3 separate regions of the Homo sapiens genome follow, and all the other regions are linked to region 1. The links come from fine-mapping of genetic effects on gene expression. A gene starts in region 1. Each other region holds a variant in brackets. All regions are shown on one strand. Distances are from middle to middle. Region 1 holds the start of PPA1 (inorganic pyrophosphatase 1). Region 2 has its middle 19 kb from the start of SAR1A. Region 3 overlaps PPA1 (inorganic pyrophosphatase 1).

Region 1 (5,226 bases):
GTTATAGATTTGAAAGTTTTCATGTTATAGGACCTCTAGGTGGTAGCTGACGCCAGAGATATACATGAGATAATCTAGACAAAGAGTATTGCTCTAGAGAGAGAGAGAGAACATGAGAAATAAGAAAGACAATGATGATTAAGATGATGAAATGAAGGCTGAGAAGGAGAATGAGAAATGAGTAGCAAAGAAGTAGGAATGGGCCGGGCGTGGTGGCTCATGCCTGTAATCCCAGCACTTTGGGAGGCCGAGGCAGGCAGATCACGAGGTCAGGGCTTCGAGACCAGTTTGGCCAACATGGTGAAACCCGGTCTCTACTAAAGGTACAAAAAATTAGCTGGGCGTGGTGGCAGGCGCCTGTAATCCCAGCTACTCTGGAGGCTGAGGCGGGAGAATTGCTTGAACCCGAGAGGCGGAGGTTGCAGTGAGCCGAGATCGCACCACCGCACTCCAGCCTGGGCGACAGAGCGAGACCCCATCTCAAAAAAAAAAAAAAAAGAAGTAGGAAGAACACGAGAAGAGAATGTAGTCGTGGCCTGGCACCGTGTCTCACGCCTGTAATCCCAACACTCTGGGAGGCTGAGGTGGGCAGATCATTTGAGGCCAGGAGTTCGAGGCTAGCCTGGCCAACATGATGAAAACACATCTCTACTAAAAATACTAAAATTAGCCAGGCATGGTGGTGCATGCCTGTGATCCCAGCTACTCAGGAGGCTGAGGTACAAGAATCACTTGAACCTGGGAGGTGGAGGTTGCAGTGAGCCGAAATCACACCACTGTACTCCAGCCTGGGTGACAGAGTGAGACTCTGTCTCAAAAAAGAAAAAAAAAAAAAAGAAGAGAATGTAGTCGCAAGCCAAAGAAGGAAATTAGAGACACCCAACAGGGTCACCCACAGCAAAGGGGACAGGATATGGACTGAAAAGTGCCACTAGATTTGGTCACTGAGTGAGAAAGATAATATTTGAGAAGAGATGGACTCCTTCTTTGTCAAACTAATGTACTTAAGAAGGTATTTTCCACCTTTACATTAATTCCTCTACCTATCCGTCCAGCAAAGATTCACTAAACATCTACTCTAGGCTGTGTACTGTGCTAGGCCCTAGGGAGACATGGTAGACCAAGGTCCTTTTGGGCCTATGGGCTCACTACACTTGCCTGCAAAGGAAAGTTACAATTCACCAGGGCTGGGTGTTTTACCAGACCTGATAATGACTGGCTCTCTGAATACATTCGATGAAACAAGAGCCAGTGTGCAAGTCTGGAGGTCAGTGAGACTTTATTATCTTGCTCTGAGCTGGCAGGAGGCAAAGGGAAAGTGTATGTAGAACATTATTATTGCATCACTGCTGTCTTCTTAAGTCAGTCACAGATGAGAGTCTGGGTTTTTCCAAGAAAATTGGTTCCATCTGCTCAAAGGCAGAAAAGTGATAGAGCAGTTCAATCAAAAGAGCATCCCCTTAAAATATTCTTTGAACTTGATCCTACTTTTTTTTCTGAAACAGAGTCTCGCTCTGTCACCCAGGCTGGAATGCACTGGCGTGATCTCAACTCACCGCAACCTCCGCCTCTCGGGATCAAGTGTTCTCCTGCCTCAGTCTCCCGAGTAGCTGGGATTACAGGCGCGTGCAACCACGCCCAGCTAATTTTTGTATTTTTACTAGGGACAGGGTTTCACTGTGTTGGCCAGGCTGGTTTCCAACTCCTGACGTCGGGTAATCCGCCCACCTCGGCCTCCCAAAGTGCTGGGATTGAAGGCGTAAGTCACCGCGCCTGGCCTTGACCCTAATTATTGACTAAACTATTGCTTCGCTAATTTTTTTTCCTGCCCTTCTGTTTTAACAGCAGTAAAACAGTGTGGTGAAATGTTCAAAAAATCAGTGAATCACAGCCTTCTGAAAATTAATGGGTGTCAGTGAGGTTTGGGAGTTGGATGGAGACAAAGGGAGCGACACCATAACTAACTGGAGATCTTACTAGGTTTTCATTTAATATTCATTTTTTACAATAGACATTGTTTGGAAAAAAGGGTTTAATTCAAAATGTCATTAAGGCACATTATCTTTAATGTTCTAGAAAAAGTTATTTAAAGAAATCCTGGCCATGAAATTAAAATAAATAAATAAATAAAACCAGGCATTCTTTGAAATGTGAATAATAATTTGCTAATTTATATTTAGGATTGTGGATATACTTTTTTTCTTTTACATGTATTCCTGGGGAGGTAAGTGATGCAAATATTTTCCCACTGCCTCAATCAGACTTTAGTTTTTGGGGTCTGGCCTGATATGATGGAATATAAACAGGAAATCAAGATCAGAAGAGCCTGTCCCTGAGAACACTCCTTCACGGGACTCTAGCTCACGCCTGGACCTTCCCAGTGCTTCCATCTGAAGCCCCTGGAGACCCAGGTGGGTTAAGTAGGGTGGCAGGGGGGATGGAGGGGGCGGGGGGCGCGGGGGCGTAAATCCTCCCCCACTGGGGAGGGTGACAGTAACAACTTCCAGATTGTTTACAAAGATACAGGCTCTGCTTCAGGCATTTGACGTGTATTAACTCGGGTAATCATCCCAGTAACTCATGAAATAGTTATATTATTATCTTCACTTCCCAGATAAGCAACGGAGTGAGAGAGATTATAGAAAGTGGAGAAGCGAGTACCTTACTAGTAGCCACTAGGGGTGTCAGTAATATGGCTCAACTTTGTTACGACGGATCAGAAAAATGCTCACCTTTAAGACCGCAAGCAGAGCCTGTCTGGGGAAGCAGGTGACTTATCAACGCCTTTTGAGATAAGGAATAGGACTGCGGGGAGGAGTGTGTGAGAATCAAAGGTGAGTTCCCTGTGTGCGTGGTCGGCGGTCAACTCCTAGCTAGTCCAAGCTTAGAGCCTGCGCATTTGCCCTCCCGGGTCAGAGCCCAAAGCCGAAGGAACAGAACCAGCGCCGGCGGCAGCCACGTGGCCCAGCCTCTGAGCCCTAGCTGCCATCGCGGAGGCTGGGCCCGAGGGGCGGGGCTGGGGAGTGCGGACACCCGGGCCTGGCGGAGTGCGCCTGCGCACGGGGTTGGCCCGGCGGGGGTGGGAACACTAGCAGAGCCGCGTTAAAGGCGCTCCCCGCCCCGCCCGCCGGTCCAGTGCTCGCAGTGCGCAGGCGTGGGGCTCTCTCCTTGTCAGTCGGCGCCGCGTGCGGGCTGGTGGCTCTGTGGCAGCGGCGGCGGCAGGACTCCGGCACTATGAGCGGCTTCAGCACCGAGGAGCGCGCCGCGCCCTTCTCCCTGGAGTACCGAGTCTTCCTCAGTGAGTGTCTGCGGCCCGTGGCCCCTCCGCGCCCGTCCGCCCATTCATTCCCGGGCCTTGCCTCCCCGGGAGGGTGCGGCCCGCGCTCGGCCCCAGGTCTCCGACGCGGGCCCGTCTCCTCGGGCGCGTTGTGGGGCCTGGCCGGCCTCACATTGCATACTTGCCGCCGCCGGTCGGGGCGGCGAGGGTCGCCTCCGGCCATCCCTCCCCGCTGAACGGAGATGGTCCCTTTGTCACGCCTCGGGGTACCCGAACCTGGGCCCAGCTAGTTTTGCAGGTGTCTGGCTCTGACAGGGTCTGTTGGGAAAAGGAAATCACCGACCCACCCTAGAAAGGTGCTTGGAAGTAACATAATTCCCGTAAGAGGATTGCTCAGTTTGGAGAAAAGGCGACTCCGGGCCGGGGGGGGCAGTGACTTCCTAAAGACCTTAATTCCGCCGCCGTAGCTCAGATTATCGGCGCTGAGCGGAGCCAAGTCCACCCCCTCGTTTTACAGACGGGAAAACTGAGGCCCGGATCGGGAGCCGTCTGTGAAGGCGCTGGACCGGTCCTCCGCGGCCCGGTCGTGCTCCTGCCTCTGCGCCGCCTGTTTTCCCTCAGCGCCGATGCTGGGAATGCTCCTTATGAAACAGAAAGCTGTTTCCCTCAAATCAAACAGATGACGTCAGTCTGGAAACAAGACTGAGAAAGTGCCAAGTTTTTACCTTTGCAGGATTCGGCGTCTAGGGGGTACCTACCCCGGGTCCTGCACCTAGGGCTGCACGGGGAAACCGGGAGGCTGCATGCTGGCGCCCTCCACGCTCCTTAGGGCACCACGTTTTTTTGGCCTTGTAGGTGGAGGAAAGCTACTTGGGGTTTTTCTTTATCCTCTTACTCCCCCCACCCCCAGCTACTAGGAGTAGATTATGGGCGATAACGGAGGCGTTCGTAAATGTGTCACCACAGGCGCTTCTATTGTAACCTCTTTACAGTTTTATTTGGAAGGAAATGGGCAGGTGCCTCGAACTCTGAGTTGGTGTATGAAGGAAGGGGAAGCGGGGAGTAGAGGAGACGAATGAATAGGCATTGAAGGAACAAAAAGTAGCCTGGTGCGGGAGGAAAAGGAAAGCGAACTGTAAAGCTTACACATCTAGCCAAAGGTTAACTATCAGGTAAAATCCAGGAAGGGTGAGAACTACCCCCCACTCTCCATTTTATTTAATTTTGCAATTAAGCAGCAAGGACAGTCCAGTAACTTTTGACTAATAATTCATGGGACTGTTTTTCTGGAAATAGTGTTGGCTCCAGAATTTCTCTGTAGGAAAGGCTTACAGAGGTGACTGTCTGGTTTGAAGGTGAGGGGTGGATCTTCAAGCTATATATGCAGAACAAACACACTGCTTTTACTTAGGTTATTTATTTGCAATTAATATTTGGTGGCCGTTATGGGAGACCAAAGCTACTCCTAGAATTTGGCACTAGCTGAAGTAACTGTTTTTATCAAGTGGAACTCTCTGGAACTTAAGAAATACTAATAATTAGAACCCACTACATAGTTATCCAATTTTAAGTGCTTTATCCTTCCTTAATAGAAATAAACTTTTTTAAGCTTTATAATATTACATTTGTCAATTTCTTTAAAACTGATAAAGGGCTGGACAGACTGCAAAGTCACAATTGGCCCTAAAGGGACTTTTATGTTTTATTGTTTGTTTTTTGAAACAAAGTCTCGCTCTGTTGCCCAGGCTGGAGTGCAGTGGCATGATCTTGGCTCATTGCAACTTCAGCCTCCCGGGTTCAAGTGATTCTCCTGCCTCAGCCTCCCAAGTAGCTGGGATTACAGGCACTTGCCACCATGCCTGACTAATTTTTGTATTTTTAGTAGAGACGGGGTTTCACCATGTTGGCCAGGCTGGTCTTGAACTCCTTACCTCCAGTGATCCACCTGC
Region 2 (5,217 bases), 45 kb after region 1:
GTGAGGAGAGAAAATTGTAGTACTCTATAGTGGTAAACTATGACTTGTGGGCCAAATCCAGCCTGCTGCCTGTTTTGTAAATAAAATTTTATTGGAACATAGCCAACATCTTTTCATTTGCAAATTGTCTGTGGCTGCCTTCCGTCTACAGTGGAGTGTTCAGTAGTTAGGACAGTGACCATATGGCCCCAAAAGCCAAAAGTATTTACTGTTTGTCTGTTTACAGAAAACATTTTCCAATCCCTGCTCTATCATATGATCCTATTTGTGTTTTTTACAAAGGGAGCATTTGGAGGAAAGACGTATATCAATAGATATGCTTCTATAAGCATAGACAATGAAAATCCAAATCCAAACCACAGTTAAGAAATCTAAAACCACAGTAACAATGATTACCTCTGGGGAGTGGAACTGTGGAGTAAGCAAGGAATAGATAAGGTCAGAGAGTTTCCTTCTTCTTTAAAAGCTTCTGTACTCTTGGAATTATTTTTCTAAAAGCATATGCAGTATGCCTTATTTTATTAAAAAAAAAAATCAATGAAGTAGGAGGAGAACACTGATGAATGGTGTTCAGCACACCCAGTGATATAAATGCTGCCAGCTCTCTAAGGCAGACTTTCTCCAAGTGGTCCCTGAACTACCAGAGCTATCTGTTTAAAAAAAAAAAAAAAGCCGAATGAATCAGAATTGGGAGGTGCTGGGCCCTAAAATCCACTTTTTTTTTTAGACAATCTCACTCTGTCGCCCAGGCTGGAGTGCAATGGCATGATATCAGCTCACTGCAACCTCCACCTCCCAGGTTCAAGTGATTCTCCCACCTCAGGCTCCCAAGTAGCTGAGCCTACATGCGCACGCCACCACGCCTGGCTAATTTTTTGTATTTTTAGTAGAGATGGGGTTTCACCATGTTGGCCAGGCTGGTCTTAAACTACTGACCTTAAGTGATCCTCCCGCCTCAGGCTCCCAAAGTTCTGGGATTACAGGCATGAGCCACTGCACCCAGCCTAAAATCCACTTTTCAACCAGGACTCTGATGTTTGAAACCGCTGCTCTTGTAATAAATGCCAGAGATCAGCAAAAGATTTCTCAGTGGGGTTTAATATAATCAGTGTGAGATCATCCAGCAAACATCTACTCACAGCAAAAGCAACAACAATAATAGCTCCCAATTATGAGCACTTCCTAAATGCAGGCCCTGTGCTATAGGCTTTACCCACTTGGACCTGTCGAATTCACTTAGCAACCCTGAGCTGAGTGTTACTATGATGAACTTGGCTCCGGGAAGGTTGCGTGGTGACCCGAGGTCTCTGAGCTCCTTATTTGGGTCTGTCACAAGGCTAGGGGCTGGAAATGCAGATCCTAGCCCCATGGCACTTGCACAGAGATGAGTTAGTCTTCTTCTTCTTTGTGTTGTTCACCCAGCAAGCCATGTGATGCTGGTTTAATAGCTGGATCACCTTCAGCACATGAGTTCCACACCTGCAAAAGAAGAGGTTGACCCAAGTACTCTGGAAGGCCTGTTCCAGCTCCAACATTCCTCTGGCTTAAAGCAGACTTGTCACCGTAGTGCGGATGTTCAAATGTGACATGTGGCTCCTTGTCACTGCCCCCACGCACCGGAGCCCTCTTCCTAGGGCCTGTCCTCCTGTCCTTCCCTGTTGAGACAGGCAGAGGTGCTGTGCCCCGTTCCTGCACATTCAAGTCTATTTCCTTGCTTCTCTGTCTCTCCTCATGAAAGTGGATCGTGACTTCAGAACTTATATCCCTGACTAGTCTGCCAGCTCCTCACAAGCAGGGGCCATGTCACAGTCATGTTTATGCCCCTGACGTCCCGCACTGCCCATAGCAGGAACTCTGTTAATAACCTTCTGATTGCTTCTCGAATGGCTTTTCAAACAGGACTGCCTTTTTGTGCTCCTCAAGGTGACAAAGTCAGCAGCCTAGTGACTGCCTGATTCCACAGAGAGGTTCTGCGTGGGCATTTCACGTGGCACTGTGCATGGCTTTCCACACTGGGATTTCTACACCCCACAGGGACACAGAGTGTGTGCCAAAGGAGACTGAAGCCACAGGGTAGACACCATGCAAAGCCCTGGGGCTTCCATTTTACTGGGGAGTGAATAATGACAAGGTTCTTCATAGGCTACAATTTTATTATTTAAAAAAATTAAAAAATATTTTTTTCAGATGGAGTCTCGCTCTGTTGCCCAGGCTGGAGTGCAGTGGCATGATCTCCACTCACTGCAACCTCTGCCTCCCAAGTTCAAGCAATTCTCCTGCCTCAGCCTCCCAAGTAGCTGGGACTACAGGTGCCTGCCACCATGCCTGGCTACCTTTTTGTATTTTTGGTAGAGATGGGGTTTCACTATGCTGGCCAGGCTGGTCTCCAACTCCTGACCTCAGGTGATCCACCTGCCTTGGCCTTCTAAAATGCTGGGATTACAGGCGTGAGCCACTGTGCCTGGCCATAGGCTACAATTTTAAATGCCAGTTTTCCATGAATTTTGAAGGAAAAATGTGCTATTTCAGGGCAAGTTGCTATTGGTGGCTTCCATGTCATGACTGTGCCACTAGACTCCTGGAGTTAAAGTTGAGAACACTCTGGGGAAGAACTCTGTGCTGGAAGTCCTAAGATCTACATGCTGGCCCTGGCTCCTTTGTGACATCAGGCAGGTCTTTTCACTTCTCTGGGACTCGGTTTCCTTATTCTGGATAACAAGGTAGTGGGCTCC[C/T]ACCTTGTGCATATGTTTTAATGTGGAAGATGTCACATCCCCACGATTTTGATATAGTCCAGTGGGGCAGGATGCAGTGGGGGAAAAAAAACCCTCTCTACCACTGAACTGGACAAGGTGGGTGATTGGGAAACTGATATTAAAGTTCAAAGCCATATTTGCATGATTCTGAAATTGCAGACCACAGAGACTGGTCATGACCCTTCACCATGTCAGGATGTGTTCATAGCTTCTGTCAGAGGATGTGACAGGGGAAGGTGGGACCTCACAATGTCATGCTGTGTCCTGCTGTAGCTTTAACTCCACAGTTCCTGCCATGGGGATAGTGTGCAGGGTTAGAAAGTTAAGGTCATTATTACAGAAAGTAGAACAAGTCCTCGGGCACCCTCAGGGTCCTAGTCTAGTGCTCAGTCACAGGTGTGCAATCTCTTTTTTTTTTTTGAGATGGAGTCTCGCTCTGTCACCCAGGCTGGAGTGCAATGGTGCAATCTCGGCTCAGTGCAACTTCCACCTCCTGGTTTCAAGTGATTCTCCTGCCTCTACCTCCCAAGTAGCTGGGATTACAGGCATGTGCCACCATGCCCGGCTAATTTTTTGTATTTTTAGTAGAGATGGGGTTTCGCCATGTTGGCCAGGCTGGTCTCGAACTCCTGACTTCAGGTGATCTGCCCACCTTGGCCTCCCAAAGTGCTAGAATTACAGACTAGGACCCTGAGGGTGCCCGAGGACTTGTTCTACTTTCTGTAGCGTTTTTTTTTTTTTTTTTTTTTTTTTGAGTCAGTCTTGGTCTATCACCCAGGCTGGGGTGCAGTGGAGTGATCATGGCTCACTGTAGCCTCAGCCTCCCATGCTCAAGTGATCCTCCCACTTCAGCCTCCTGCATAGCTTGGACCACAGGCATGCACGACCATGCCTGGCTAATTCATTCATTTATTTTTTGTAGAGATGGGGTCTGTCTGTATTGCTCAGGGTGGTCTCAAACTCCTGGGCTCAAGGGATCTTCCTGCCTTGGCATTCCAAAGTGCTGGGATTACAGGCTTGAGCCACCATGCCTGGCTGCAATCTCTGCCAGTAGGAACCACAAAGAAATCTGCTGGAAGAATTTGAGGGGGAAAGTGTATGCAGAATTGGGCTCCCTTCTTTTTGAACAAATTCTCTTTCCTAAGGAACAGCAGAGGGAAGCAGACTCAATGTTTGGGGTGACTTTATAGAACATAACTATTGCAAATAGCAAGAATCAATTGTAGATAGAGACACATGTCTTTGTGTGTGTATATATATGTATATTTCTAAAACAGGCCAGGCACAGTGACTCACGCCTGTAATCCCAGCAATTGTGGGAGGCTGAGGCAGGCGGATCACTTGAGGTCAGGAGTTCTAGACTAACCTGACCAACATGGTGAAACCCCGTCTCTACTAAAAATACAAAAATGAGCCAGACGTGGTAGTATGCACCTGTAATCCCAGCTACTCGGGAGGCTGAGGTTGCAGTGAGCCGAGATCACACCACTGCATTCCAGCCTGGGCGACAGAGCAAGACTGTGTCTCAAATAAAATAAAAATATGGCACATATGTACCATGGAATATTATGCAGCCATAAAAAATGATGAGTTCATGTCCTTTGTAGGGACATGGATGAAGCTGGAAACCAGCATTCTCAGCAAACTATCGCAAGGACAAAAAACCAAACACCGCATGTTCTCACTCATAGGTGGGAATTGAACAGTGAGAACACATGGACACAGGAAGGGGAACATCACACACCGGGGCCTGTTGTGGGGTGGGGGGATGGGGAGAGGGATAGCATTAGGAGATATACCTAATGTTAAATAACGAGTTAGTGGGTGCAGCACACCAACATGGCACATGTATACATATGTAACAAACCTGCACGTTGTGCACATGTACCCTAAAACTTAAAGTATAATAAAAAAAAAAAAAAGAAAAAAAAATAGCCGGCCAGATGCGGTGGCTCACACCTGTAATCCCAGCACTTTGAGAGGCTGAGGCGGGCAGATCACGAGGTCAGGAGATCGAGACCATCCTGGCTAACACGGTGAAACCCCATCTCTACTAAAAATACAAAAAATTAGCCGGGCGTGGTGCCGGGCGCCTGTAGTCCCAGCTACTCGGGAGGCTGAGGCAGGAGAATGGCATGAACCCGGGAGGTGGAGCTTGCAGTGAGCCAAGATAGCGCCACTGCACTCCAGCCTGGGCGACAGAGTGAGACTCCGTCTCAAAATAAAATACAATAAAATAAAACAATAAAATAAAATTAAAAAATGGGGAAATTGATTTACACCTTTGTAACCTTTTATTTTAACTTAAATGTGAACTCTTCTTCATTTATAAAGCTATTCAATACTATACAAAATGACTCAATTAATTATGTAATGAAGATAACAGTTCATGTATTCAGTCTCTAGTGATTCACCTTTTGGTTTATTTCCAATTTCTTCTGATTTTAAATAATGCTGCAATAAG
Region 3 (5,226 bases), 23 kb after region 1:
TAATGGTAAGAAAATTTGAAAAGTCTGAAGTCTTTCTAATTAATTCATAAGCACCACCATACTTAACCTATAATGACAGAATTGTAAGCCCTTACCTTCAAACTGTTAAAGGATGGAGGAACAAAGCACTGGACAAGCATTATTTCTATGACTGCACTTGTAATTAACTAAGTAAACTTTCTCCTTCATTCCAGGAAAGAAAAAATCTGGTAGGTTCTTACTGTTTTTTTGGTCCTTTCCTTCCCCACATACCAGCACTCAGTTGGTATGTTTATTTATTTTAAAACATTTAATTGAGATATTCACATATCAAAGAGTCACCATTGTAAAATGTACAATTCAGTGGTTTTTAGTATATTCACTAAGTTGTACAACCATCACCACTCTCTAATTGCAGAACATTTCATCAGCCCAGAGGAAATCCTGTATCCATGGGCAATCACTCCCTGTCCCCCTTCCCTCAGTCCCTGATGACTGCAGATCTACTTTGTGCCTATGGATTTGCCTATGCTGTTATTTCATGTAAATGGCATCATATAGGTGGCCTCTGTGTCTGGTTTATTTCACTTAGCGAAGTAAGTGTCTTCAGGATTCATCCGTATTGTAGTATGTATCAGCACTTCATTCCCTTTTTTTTTTTTTTTGGTGGTAAATTTTACATAACATAAAATTCACCATTTTAATTAAAGTGTGAAATTCAGTGGCATTTCATTCATTCACAAGGTTGTGCAGCCATCACCACTAGTTCAAGTCATTCCCTATTCCCTCCTCCTCTCCAGGCCCTGGCAGCCACTAATCTGCTTTTTGTCTTTATAGCTTTGCCTATTCTACCTATTCTAGGTATCTCATATACATGGACTGGTACAATATATGGATCTTTGTTGTTGCTGTTTCTGGTTTCTTTCACTTAGTATAATGTTTTCTAGGTTTATCCATATTGCATATTGTGGCATCTGTCAGTACTCCTTTTTATGGTTGAATATTATTCCATTGTGTGGATATACTACATTTTGTTTATCCATTCATCAGTTGATGGACATTTGGGTTGTTTTGGCTGTGTAATGCTGCCATGAACATTCCTGTACAAGTTTTTGTGTGGACTTATGTTTTTATTATTGGGTACATACATAGGAGTTGCCAAAGCTAGAACACTTTGAGCAAGAAAATAAAGTAGTATTGTAATATAACCTGGAACATAAAATAAATCTCCATGAGTCTATACTGACAAATAAATGATTGAATAAATAGACAAATGAGGAAGAATAGACAAATCTCAAAGCAGAAGAATTCCAAATAATTTATGCAGATACTCCATTCTCAAGGAGGTCCTTAATTGTGAGTTGTGCCTGGTGACTTCCTTCCAAAGAGTACAGTGTGGGTAAGGGAGAGGAGAGGATGACTTTAGAGCAGAGAAACTTGACAAACACTGCCTCAGCCAGGTGATGGAGGTCAATGTCAGCAGTGATAAGAGTCACCTTGAGAGCATGTTCCCTCAAAATGATGTGATGTATATTTGCATCTGTGTTAATTCATTGAAGAAGGACTGGAAGAATGCCAATCCTTTAATGTTTCGTTTCAATTTTGAAAGGTGAGAGTGCATTCACACCATCTGTTCACTACTTGGTAGTACGGCTCTGTTCTGTTGGTCCGTGTGTGCATTTCCAACGTGCTTCTTATGCAAGAGAACTTGGCATGCTGTGGCCACAATTAGTGAAGCCAAGCCCATCACTCTGTCAGCACTCATTTACTAAGGCTTTATTTTCCTGCAGTTCAGGTTATTAGAACCCTGAAAACTTTCTCGGGGTGGCTGGTCCCATGGCGCAAGTAGTATGCAGCTTTCCCTAATGTCAACCTAAGGCAGTGTCTATTGTCCATCCTATAGCTTGCCCCTGTGCATCTCTTCCATTTGCTGTCCCTGAGTTGTATTTATATAACGAAATTTAAACTTCAGTGTTTTCCTGAGTTCTGTGAACCATTTTAGCAAATTAGGGGACCTGGGGAGAGGATTGTAGAAACCCCTAATTTATAGCTGATAGTCAAAAGTACAGGAGGCATCTGAAGTGGGGCAGTCTTGTGAGACTGAGCCCCTAACCTTTGAGATCTGATGCTAACTCCAGGTAGATAGTATCAGAATCACAGTGAATTACTGAGCACTCAGTTGGTGTCTGAATAATTGGAGAATTAGTTTCTGTTATTGGAAAACATCAACATTTGCATGTTGGATTTCTGGATTTCCAAATTATTTCTATATCAGGTGACACATTTCATGTAAATTATAAGTTCTTTGAAATTTACTAGTGCTTAAACATTTCCCAGTGCATTCTGTAAAGTTTCCATACTTTTAGTGATATTATGATAATAGAATGCATGCTATTCTTTATGCAGATTATAAATTGGATTGAAGCGGCCGGGCGCGGTGGCTCAC[G/A]CCTGTAATCCCAGCACTTTGGGAGGCCGAGGCAGGCGAATCATGAGGTCAGGAGATCGAGACCGTCCTAGCTAACACGAAACCCCATCTCTACTAAAAATACAAAAAAATTAGCCAGGCATGGTGGTGGGCACCTGTAGTCCCAGTTACTCAGGAGGCTGAGGCAGGAGAATGGCGTGAACCCGGGAGGCAGAGCTTGCAGTGAGCCGAGATTGCGCCACTGCACTCCAGCCTGGGAGACAGAGCGAGACTCCTTCTCAAAAAAAAAAAATAAATTGGAGTGAAGCAATGTTATCTTATACAAATATAAATAAGCTTTTGTTATTGTTGAATGTATTTCTCTTCCTCATAATACTTTTCCTAACTGACTTTTTAGGATGTGTATCTCTGTTTGCTTGCATTGAGCAGGAGTTTGTTATTTGAAGTGCAGTTTGATAACATTGAGGCTAGCCATTGTTGATGGCTATACAGAAACTTAAAATTTTTAAAGCAGTGCACTTTTCTGTCAGCCAGAACTAAAGTATTGTTATGTACAGTGCCTGTACTATCCAGCAAAGTCTAGTCACATTTAATACGTAACCCATCAATGGATATCAATCTAATCTATTTTTCTTATCTTTTAGTATGTAATAGTGTTGTGATCCTCTGACATAGCCTCTGCCTCTGGACCAGGGATAGTACCTCAAGCCTGTAATCCCAGTGCTTTGGGAAGCCAAGGCAGGAGGATTGCTTGAGCCCAGGAGTTTGAGACCAGCCTGGGCAACATGACGAGACCCCATTTCTACAAAAAATTTAAAAATTAGCTGGGCGTGTGCATGCTTATAGTCCCAGCTACTCAGGAGGCTGAGGTGAGAGGATCGCTGAACTGTGGAGGTCAAGGCTGCAGTGAGCCTTGTTCGGGCCACTGCATTCCAGCGTGGGTGACAGAGCGAGACCTTGTCTCTGAAAAAAAAAAAAAGATAACCTCTGTCTTTTTCAGTATCTTGTACACTTCTCATAGGAATTATCTACATTTGCCAAACTGGTTGTTTCATTATGTAGCCACCAGCTGTTTGCCCTTACCTAACAGAGATTACTATTGTACTGATTGTTCTCTGTACTTAGTGTCAGAGCTATTCAGAGATACTAGATGATTTTCTTTCAATGTATATGTGTATGGCTTCTCTTCTCAACAAGGGGCTTCGCTCCAATGTTATCTTGAACTTCCGTGATAAGTCATTCCACAGCTCTTTCAAAATAAGTACTTGGAATTTTTGTTGAGTGTATAATTATTTGTGCATCTTGAAATCTGCTTATTCTCTTCTTTCTTTTTAAAAAAATCATTCTCACTGTCATCTTATGCTTCTTCTCTTCTTAGATATCAATGATGTCAAACGGCTGAAACCTGGCTACTTAGAAGCTACTGTGGACTGGTTTAGAAGGTATAAGGTTCCTGATGGAAAACCAGAAAATGAGTTTGCGTTTAATGCAGAATTTAAAGATAAGGTAATATGTCATTCAGAACTGTAGCTTTAGGCTCATTTGTATTGAGACTCATAATTTAACCATATTGTTACCATCTAAAGATTCACAAAACAGAAGTCTGGAAACATAACACAGTCTTGGTGTTTATTTATTCACTTTAATATTCTCTTCCATTTTTAGAATAAGGAAATGATTCAGAAGAGACAAAGTATCAGGCTTTGGGGAAATGTTGATAATAGGAAAATAATACCTTTTTATCATTGTAATGCAAACCTCTTCAAATTATAGGACTTTGCCATTGATATTATTAAAAGCACTCATGACCATTGGAAAGCATTAGTGACTAAGAAAACGAATGGAAAAGGAATCAGTTGGTAAGTGTAAACACTTTGCATGTTTAACACACAAAGCAGACCAGCTTGCAGAAAAGGTTTTAATAATCATAAGACACTGTACTGTTACTTTCACTTAGAAAAGAGATACAAGGCTGGGTGCGGTGGCTCACACCTGTCATTCCAGCACTTTGGGAAGCCAAGGTGGATGGATTGCTTGAGCCCAGGAGTTGAAGACCAGCCTGGACAACATGGAAAAACCCTGTCTCTACAAAAAGTACAAAAATTAGCTGGGCATGGTGGTACATACCTGTAGTCCTAGCTACCTGGGAGGCTGAGTTGGGAGGATCACCTGAGCCTGGGGAGGTTGAAGCTGCAGTGAGCCGTGATCGTACCACTGTACTCCAGCCTGGGCGACAGAGCGAGACTCGGTCTCAAAAAAAAAAAAAAAAGAGTACGAGAAACAGCCAATGTACAAAAATAATTCTCCCAGAAATCTTCTATTCTGTGTCAGGATAATGTCCTATAAAATGAAAACATTGTCCTTCCAACAAACAGAAGAAAAATGGAGAAGAGTTATATGTGTAAAAATGTACAGTCCTAAGAGTTGGCATTTGTCTGGGTGCTATATGGCTCATTCCTGTAATTCCAGCACTTTAGGAGGCTGAGGCAGGAGGATCACTTGAACTCAGGAATTGGAGACTGGTGGGGGCAACATAGTGAGACCTCATCTCTACTAAAAATTAAAAAAAAATTAGCCAGGCATGGTGGCGCTTGCCTGTAGCAAGGCTGAGGTGGGAAGATCACTTGAGCCTTGGAGATCAAGGCTGCAGTGAGCTGTGATTGCCCCACTGCACTCCAACTGGGGCACCTGAGCAAGACCCTGTCTCAAAAGAAAAAAAAAAGGAAAAAGATTTGGCTTTTAAGTTAACTTCTCTATTTTTTCGTATCTTACGATTTCTATGAAAATGGTCTTAATGTATGTTAAATAACAGGTCAGCAAAG

Evidence for each region. PIP is the estimated chance that this variant, and not a neighbour inherited with it, causes the effect.
Region 2: its variant is the best candidate, but not a certain one, in a credible set for the expression of PPA1 in aorta (GTEx, PIP 0.53).
Region 3: its variant is the best candidate, but not a certain one, in a credible set for the expression of PPA1 in whole blood (INTERVAL, PIP 0.85).

What each region holds. Positions count from the first base shown.
Region 1 is chr10:70,231,336-70,236,561 of GRCh38, reverse strand. PPA1 (inorganic pyrophosphatase 1) reads left to right here and starts at 3,133. Exons shown (of 11, transcript NM_021129.4): 1 at 3,133-3,298. The coding sequence starts at 3,235. RefSeq lists a silencer at 2,922-3,491.
Region 2 is chr10:70,186,730-70,191,946 of GRCh38, reverse strand. No RefSeq gene overlaps it. Among named protein-coding and RNA genes, the nearest start is that of SAR1A, 19 kb to the right of the region's middle. The variant C/T (reference allele first, on the strand shown) is at 2,733.
Region 3 is chr10:70,208,242-70,213,467 of GRCh38, reverse strand. It overlaps PPA1 (inorganic pyrophosphatase 1), which reads left to right. Exons shown (of 11, transcript NM_021129.4): 6 at 1-5; 7 at 3,783-3,910; 8 at 4,178-4,263. Among named protein-coding and RNA genes, the nearest start is that of PPA1, 23 kb to the left of the region's middle. The variant G/A (reference allele first, on the strand shown) is at 2,426.